Linked DNA regions of Homo sapiens: regions 1 and 2 are each linked to region 3. The links come from fine-mapping of genetic effects on gene expression. A gene starts in region 3. Each other region holds a variant in brackets. All regions are shown on one strand. Distances are from middle to middle. Region 1 overlaps PPM1F (protein phosphatase, Mg2+/Mn2+ dependent 1F). Region 2 overlaps PPM1F (protein phosphatase, Mg2+/Mn2+ dependent 1F). Region 3 holds the start of TOP3B (DNA topoisomerase III beta).

Region 1 (2,753 bases), 55 kb before region 3:
GTTCAAGTGATTCTCCTGCCTCAGCCTCCTGAGTAGCTGTGACTACAGGGGCGTGCCACCATGCCCAGCTAATTTTTTTGTGTTTTTAATGGAGACAGGGTTTCTCAAAGTTGGCCAGACTGGTCTCGATCTCCTGACCTCATGATCCACCCTCCTCGGCTTCCCAAAGTGCTGGGATTACAGGTGTGAGCCACCGCGCCTGGCCTAGTTCTTGTCCTCCTCTACCCAAGCTCAGCACAGGCACAGTCTCCACTCAGCTGGGGACCACAACACCCCAGGCCTGGGTTCCTCCAGGGACAGGACAGAGGCTTGGTCCACCCACAAGTCCTCTAGAAACCTCTTTGGTCCTATCAGCCTCTGCCCAAAGGAGAGGCTGCCCCGATGAGAGCCTGCTGACTGAAGCCTGCACAACAGCATCCCTGACAGAGTGACGGAGGCACCCTGGGAGTGAGGCACCTCCCAAGTCTACTGGGGGAAGAGGGCATCCCTTACCGGTTTATCAGGTAAACCTCTTGACCCCACGCAGCACCAGCCCTTCTAGTCCCCAGGCACAGCACCAGCTGGGCATGAGAACTCTGATGCCCCAGGTGATGGTGTCCCCTAGACAGATTGGGATATCAGCCAATTCCCTCCCCAGAGCAGACGGACATGCACTGCGGGAGGCCTGGGGGAGGCAGCCCTCTCCAGATGCCTGCACCAAGGACCAGGCCTCTTTATGTGGCTCCCCTGCAGAGGGCATTGTGGTGGGAATGACATGGGTTTGCAGGAGTCCCGGCCTTCCTGGGCACTGCAGCCATGAGCCTGTGTGGGAACTGGACCAGTGCCTGGTAGGCTGGGTGCTCCTGTCCCAGCTGAGGTGGAGAATCAAGCCATGAAGGGGGCAGGAACAGGGACCTCAAGGCTCTCTCTGGGTCTAAGATCTGCCACCTCCGGGGTCTGAGCAGGGCAAGGGAAAGGCAAGGAGGACCAGGAAGGAGGGAAGAGCAGGAGACAGCCAAGAAGAGGGCAGGAGAAAGGGCACGGGGAGAGGCAGGTGGATGAACACAGAGTACGCACGAATGTTCACACATACATGTGCCCACACACACGCGTGAAGGCGCCTGCAGACGGCGAGGAGCTGCAGAGGAAGCAGCGCCTCCTCCCCTGTGCCTCAGAGGCGTTCCCTGGGGAGGGGCTGTGAGCGTGGGAGGCTCCAGGGAGAATGAGGAGCCTTTCTCTGCTTCTGTCTCCCACACACCCCAGCCCACTCCAGCCCCTCAATGTCCCAGAGGCAGGAATGTGGGCAGGTGATGGAGAATGAAC[G/A]GCAATCTGCTTCCCATGCCCTCTGGAGGTGGCTCTCCCCCACAGGGGGCCATGCAGGCTAAGCTTAGAACCTTCCTACCTGAAGCCCCTCCCCACCACCAGGGATGGCTGTGGGACAGGGTGGAGCCAAAGGGCAGGAGGGCACAGGGGCTGTGCTGCTCCCCTGCAGCCTGTGATCCCCTCTCCTGCCATTCTGCACCCCCTGTGCTGGACAGGCTGCGCCGGCTCCCCGGGCTCGCCCCTCTAACCCTGGCCCTGAACCTGGGTCCTCCTCCCCTCCAGTGGCTCCCACCTCCGTCACACACTGGCCAGGCTCAGTCTGGTCCGGGACTAACATATCCCCAGGCTAAGGGGTCTTGTCCCATTCCCCCTGAGTCTCCTAGTCACTGATTCTTGATTCTGTTTTTTGTTTTGTTTTTTTTTTTTTTTTTTTTTTTTTTTTGGAGACAGGGTCTTGCTTTGTTGCCAAGGCTGGAGTGCAGTGTCATGAACATAGCTCACTGCAGCCTCGACCTCTAGGGCTCAAGCCATCTCCTGCCTTCGCCTCCCGACTGCCCAGCGCCCACCCCCTCAGCAGCTCTTCCCTCTGCTCCTCAAACCTCATCCTCTCCACCTGCCTGAAACAGCTTCCCAGGTCAAAGCTGGAGCCGGTGGCCTGTGGGTTCCTGTGAACAGCCATTTCCTGCTTCCTAGGAGTGCAGTGCTCCACACGGCCAGGCCGCAGCAGCGTCGCCTATGGCACTGCCATCCTCCTGGATGCCCAAGGCCCTCTGCGATGTCTCCACCTGCAGAGCCGGGACTCCTATCTCTCCCAGGCTGCCTGCCAGGCGTGCCAGCGTGACCTGTGACCTTGAGTGACTCTCACTGCCCTCCTGAACTCACTTTTGTGACCCAGCCCTCAACTTGTCCTCCAGTGGCCTGATCACTTCAGAAGCTTCTAGTGAGTCCTTACAGAGTTCCTCCCAGCCTGGGGCAGTCCAGCTTTTCCAGCTGAAGGAGCAGCAGGTGGGTGGTCTTCTCCCCTGCCCCGAGTCTTCTACCCACTGATTCTGGGGCTTGTTTTTGTTTTTTGAAGACAGGGTCTCACTCTGTTGCCAAGGCTGGAGTGCAGTGTCATGAACATAGCTCACTGCAGCCTCAACCTCTAGGGCTCAAGCCATCCTCCTGTCTCCTGAGGCTTGAGAGGTGGGAGGATCACTTGGGGCACACCTCCACACCTGGCCCTGATTCTGGCATAACCTGCCCTTTCCTCCTGGTCTCTCCCCTGGCCTGCAGGAATTGCAACTGCCTGAGATGCGGCTCCATTCCATTCATCTCTCTGCCTCATCCTGCCAGGTCCTTGCCCTCCTCCTGCTCCCCCATTAGACTTAGAGGCAGGAAGTGGGTCCTGTGTTATCTCACTGCCTCAACAAAGTATCTTGTGCAGAGTGGGCACTCAGTGTTTGGAGGCT
Region 2 (2,753 bases), 40 kb before region 3:
TGGAATCTGCCTTCTCACCCAGTGGGGGCCCTGGAAGCTGGACAACACACATTCACCCCTGTGTGCCTGTCCCTGAGAGTGGGGGTCAGGGGAGCATGCCTGGGGTGGCGAGGTGATTCTGCACTGGGCCGACACTCCCGGCTTTAACTGGAAGGCGAGGACCTTCCAACAGCACAGGCTGACAGGTCTTGTTCCATGGGGGCTGGGCACCCAAGGTATCTACTGATGGTCTGAGGAATCTACCGGGATGGATTCCTGATTTTTTTTTTTTTTTTTCTGAGACGGAGTTTCGCTCTAGTTGCCCAGGCTGGAGTGCAATGGCGTGATCTCAGCTCACCACAACCTCCACCTCTCGGGTTCAAGTGATTCTCCTGCCTCAGCCTCCTGAGTAGCTGGGATTACAGGCATGAGCCACCATGCTCAGCAGATTCGTGATTTTTAAAATGAAAGGGTGACTCATGGGAGAAGCCTCTGGAACTGCCTTTGAAAAACAACCAGCCAAGACATGAGAAATTAGTTCCTCTGCCATTTGGGGGTTTCCTGCCAACTGCTGGGTTTTCCTTTTGCACAGCAGGGAGGAAGGACGCCTGTTTCCCTTGGTCCCGGTGAGGCCAGGCCTCAGCTTCCTGCCCACCCGCCACTGCTGCTGGGGCAGGGAGGCAGTTTCCGGCTGTGGGGACCCAGACAATGCCTGGCCAAGGGCCACCATCGTCCTCTTCCTGGACACAGCTCCCGCCTCATCCCAGGGTCTGGCCTGGGACACGCCCTAGAGGCCCTCAGCCCTGAGTCACTGCACCATGCAGATCCACCCTGATTCTGGTCCCTGCAGAGCAGGCTCCTACACAAGGCAAGAAGATGCTCCAGGGACAAGCCAAGGTGTATGCAAGGCCCAGGTGCCTGAGAAACACGTCTCACCGACCTTGGGGCAGGGGCTGTTACAAGAGGCTTATAGTCTAGTGGCAGAGACAAAAACCACACTCAAATCATTAGTGTACGGTATGCACTGCTCAGGGACTCAAATATGTGACAGGAGGCTCCAAACAAGAGCGGAGACAAGGCGTAAATAGCCCCCTGTGGACTGGATGTTCTGACTCCTGGATGGCCTCCAGAAGGATGCCTTTTACGGTCTGTGAAAGAGCTCAGGGACCAAGATGCTCAAAGCCCTTCATGCCCAAGAGCCCCTCCTCAGGCTGGGACACGGGAAGCAGAGCTCGGAGGTGGAACTCGTGACTGTGTATGGGCACATGTGAGTGCGTGTGTGTGGACAGCCAGGCTTAGTGTAGACAACGTGTGAGGCTCAGACCCCAAGTGCTGACTACACCTATGCACATCCACACCTGCGTGTGAAAGAAGATGCTAGAAAAGAACAAAAATAACTTAAAAAATAAATCCAATAAGATGGCTGGAACATATAACAACTTCAAATACTCCATTTTAGTTCACCATGTAAGGTGGGTTCCTGGGGGCTGAGGAGACTCGGGAGCTCTGCACCCCTCCTGCTCGCACCCATCACTAGGTGGCTCACACAGCAGCCGCTCAACAAGTCTGGCTGCTCTCGCATCAAAACCAAAACCCACTG[C/T]CCTCCCCTGCGCCCCCAGCACTGACCCCAACACTTTGGTTCGGGGCCCTCCTGGGCAGGTCACCTGCACTGCCTACTCACTCCTCAGCCCTCCAGGCCCTCCCACCTTGGATCCTTCCCTGGGACCCTGCTCTGCGCCCTTCTCCCCCTGCCCAGGAACTGAAGGCTGATGTTGTCACCCCGGTGCTGCGGCCTGTCCGTCTTCAGCACCTGTGCCCCACGCAGGCCCAGCAAACCCCTGGGCTCTGTTGTTCCCCGGGATGGCTTTTCCATCTGATCCCCAGCTTGGGGCTGGCACCGCTTGGCTTTGCCCGGTCACCTCATGCTTGGGCCAAAGTGCACCAACCCTTCTGTCCCGGGCCTGGCTTTTTGCCTCAAGGCAGCAATGGCCCCATGCCACCTCCACGAAGACCCAGTGGCTGCAGAACTCCCTGGTCTGGACTCCCCTGCTCCCTGCAGAGTGCCACCTGCTCCTCTCAAGAAGGCAGAACGTGAGGCCTTTCCTCACCTCCCGTGCATTGGCACCCCTGCTGGGCCCACTCTGCTCCACCACTGGGGGCTGATTCACTTTGTGCCACATATCTAAAATATTTCCTCAAAACAAGCCAATAACACCCTTTGCGCATGCCATGACCTCATGGAGCGTGGTCACCGGACATTTCCTCCTGAGCTCTAGGCAGCTGTGGGGGATGCTGGGTGGCATAGCCCTTGCATGTGGCTGACACTTAGCAATGTTTGTGCCCATGTTGCACAGGGAGAGCACAAGTCACTGACTCTGCTAGGGCCTGGGGTCAAGGAAAATAGGCCCTTGGTGGGTGTCAGGAACAGAGTTGATTCGCTGCAAGGGGCAAAGGAAGTGCACACTTGGGGGATACTGAGGCAGCCACCGAGGATGGTGGCTCTGTCAGAGGGAGCTATGGCTGAGGGCCTGTCATGGCTTCAGGTGATATTTCAGGTGATTTGGGTGATGCTGGGACTGGGGACCATGCGCACATCCCCTCAGCAAGGGACTAGGTTCACAGAAACAGCACGCGGCCCACCAGCCTGCTCACCTCCATGAGCTGTCCCCTGTGCCAGACAGACAGCCTAACTCCAAGACCCTGTCTGAGCAGAGAGGGTTCGAGAAAAGACCTTGTCCTTCACCATCTTTCATGGGACAAATGCTTCCAGAATG
Region 3 (2,753 bases):
GTTCAAGACCAGCCTGGCCAACATGGTGAAGCCTGGTCTCTACTAAAAATACAAAAATTAGCTGGGCGTGGTGGCGCATGCCTGTAATCCCAGCTACTCAGGAGGCTGAGGCAGGAGAATCACTTGAACCCGGGGGCGGAGGTTGCAGTGAGCTGAGATCGCGCCACTGCACTCCAGCCTGGGTGACAGAGTGAGACTCTGCCTGCAACAAAACAAACAAAAAAAGAAACAAGCAGATGTGGCCTGGGAGTAGGCCTAGCAGTGGTCTGAATAGCATTAAAATTCCTAGGATTTACCACCTCAGTAACTTTACCAAATGCTTCTAGAATCAGGAAAAGAGGGAAACAACCATTTCTTAAGCTCCTCCTTTGTAGTAGGCACACCATAGCTATCAACACTATTCAATCTCGCCAGCAACCCCATAAGGCAGGTGTTGTAATTTTTTAAAACTGTGAGTAAATGGAGGTTCAGAACAAGTCACACTAGTGTCAGGTGACCTTGGCAAAAGAATCCCAGGACTGGCTGGCCATCAAGCCCAAGTTAGGCTGGCCTCTCAGGTCCTGTTTCAAAAGGTGAGAAGATAAAAAGGCAAGACTAGGAACATCTTACCTTTCACTTCTGCGAGAAATTATTGCCCCTGGATTCCAGCTAATTTGTTCACAAAAGTACCCTACTTCATTTACAGATAACAGGTCAGAGAACCTGGGTGCCCTCAAAACCCAGCCAGGGCCTAGGGGGCGGCGAGTGGAAGCTGCCTGGGTGTGTACCGCACCGATCTGGGCCCCGGTGGCTGCACAGCTTCCCTGAGCCTCAGTTTCCCTACCTGTGAGACTGGTACAGCAGATCTCACCCTAAAGAGCTGTGGGAGGGTTCGAAGAAGAAAAGTATTAACCACAGCGCCTGCTCCCTGCAGGCACATGGCGGGCCCATCTCCACCTCCCTGAACCCCCACAGCAAGCCCCGCGGGAGAGTATCACCCCCGCCAGGGAAGAGGCAACAAGAATGCAGAGCCCGGCCCGGGCGCTCTCCCGAGCTCGCGGGTCCTCCGCCGGCCAACGTTCAGGAAACAAGCCAGAAAAATGCGTGCGCTTCCCGCCTTTCTGAGCCGCCGGGCGAGGGTCCCGCAGCCCGCCGCTCACCCACAGCCGCACCGCGGATCCAGCTCCGGTCCTTGTTCCCGGGGCGGCTACCGACAACCCCTATTTCCGGGTCCAGCCGCTTCTGGCGTCCCCGCGTCCGGTGTGCCAGCGTCTGCCCTCCGGCTCCGGCGGGTCGGCGTTCTTAGGTTCCGTGGCTCGCGGATTCCGGGAGCACCCCAGGGAGTGGCACTTGCACGCCGCGGACCGCAGGGATCCCCAAGCCCTGCACCCAGATTCTTCCCCGCCACGGAGAGACAATCATGACAATTATCATTACAATGATTATGAAAACTGGCATGAAAACATTTATGCTGTTAATAATTAAAATAATAAAAATGTACCGATGTGTGTATAGCAGGCTTCTTTTCGATGCTGTAAAAAAATCTGTGGAATGAATGAATGATCTGTGTAAAATATATTTGGAAGATGAATTCTAAAATTAAGTTATTTATTTATTTATTTATTTATTTATTTTGAGACAGAGTTTTACTCTTGTCGCCCAGGCTGGAGTGCAGTGGTGTGATCTCGGCTCACTGAAACCTCCGCCTCCCAGGTTCAAGCAATTCGCCTGCCTCAGCCTCCTAAATAGCTGGGATTACAGGCGTGCGCCACCACGCCCAGCTAATTTATATGTGTATGTATATATATGTGTGTGTATACATATATATATATATTTTTTTTTTTTTTTTTGAGGCGGAGTCTCACTCTGTTGCCCAGGCTGAAGTGCAGTGGCGCAATCTCGGCTCACTGCAACCTCCGCCTCCCGGGTTCAAGCGATGATCTCGCCTCAGCCTCCCAAGTAGCTGGGACTATAGGCGCTTGCCACCACGCGGGCTAATTTTTTGTATTTTTTTAGTAGAGACGGGGCTTCACCGTGTTAGCCAGGATGGTCTCGATCTCCTGACCTCGTGATCCGCCCGCCTTGGCCTCCCAAAGATTTCTATATTTTTAGTAGAGACGGGGGTTTCACCGTGTTAACCAGGCTAGTCTTGAACTCCTGACCTTAGGTGGTCCGCCTCCCTCGGCCTCCCAAAATGCTGGGATTACAGGTGTGACTCTTCACGCTCGGCCAACTAATTTATTTGTTAGAGCATTAGGATTATGGAAGGTTTAAAATACGTTTTATGATCTTATTTTAAATAACATACACACATTGCCCTTGTTCCTTGTAGATTTTCCCAACCTGCTGTTTTTTTTTTTTTTTTTTTAAAGACAGGGTTTCACTCTGTCACCCAGGCTGGAGCGCAGTAGCGAGATCACAGCTCACTGCAGCCTCGATCTCCTGGCGTCAGGCGATGCTCTCACCTCAGCCTCCCCAGTAGCTGGGACCACAGGTGCCAGCCACCAAGCCCAGCCAATTAATTTTTTTTTTTTTGGTAGAGATGGGGTCTAGGGGGAGGGTCTCACTATGTTGCCCAGATTGGTCTCAAACTCCTGGCCTCAAGTGATCCTCCTGCCTCGGCCTCCCAAAGTGCTGGGATTACAGGGGTGAGCCACTGTCCCGGGCCCCAACCTGCCTTTATTGGAATGATCTGTGTAAAGTATATCTGGAAGATGAATTCTAAAATTAAGTTATTTATTTATCTAATTTATTTTGATAAATAATAAGTAGTC

Evidence for each region. PIP is the estimated chance that this variant, and not a neighbour inherited with it, causes the effect. A credible set is the group of variants that fine-mapping cannot tell apart.
Region 1: its variant is the best candidate, but not a certain one, in a credible set for the expression of TOP3B in lung (TOPMed, PIP 0.55).
Region 2: its variant is the best candidate, but not a certain one, in a credible set for the expression of TOP3B in whole blood (INTERVAL, PIP 0.90).

The regions. Positions count from the first base shown.
Region 1 is chr22:21,926,227-21,928,979 of GRCh38, forward strand. The region is part of intron 6 of PPM1F (protein phosphatase, Mg2+/Mn2+ dependent 1F); the gene reads right to left. Among named protein-coding and RNA genes, the nearest start is that of PPM1F-AS1, 11 kb to the right of the region's middle. The variant G/A (reference allele first, on the strand shown) is at 1,303.
Region 2 is chr22:21,942,010-21,944,762 of GRCh38, forward strand. All of the region lies in intron 2 of PPM1F (protein phosphatase, Mg2+/Mn2+ dependent 1F), which reads right to left. PPM1F-AS1 (PPM1F antisense RNA 1) reads left to right here. Exons shown (of 2, transcript NR_147620.1): 2 at 1-1,425. Among named protein-coding and RNA genes, the nearest start is that of PPM1F-AS1, 5.1 kb to the left of the region's middle. RefSeq lists an enhancer at 1,926-2,425. The variant C/T (reference allele first, on the strand shown) is at 1,580.
Region 3 is chr22:21,981,591-21,984,343 of GRCh38, forward strand. TOP3B (DNA topoisomerase III beta) reads right to left here and starts at 1,197. Exons shown (of 18, transcript NM_001282112.2): 1 at 1,140-1,197. RefSeq lists enhancers at 598-1,584, 1,082-1,376.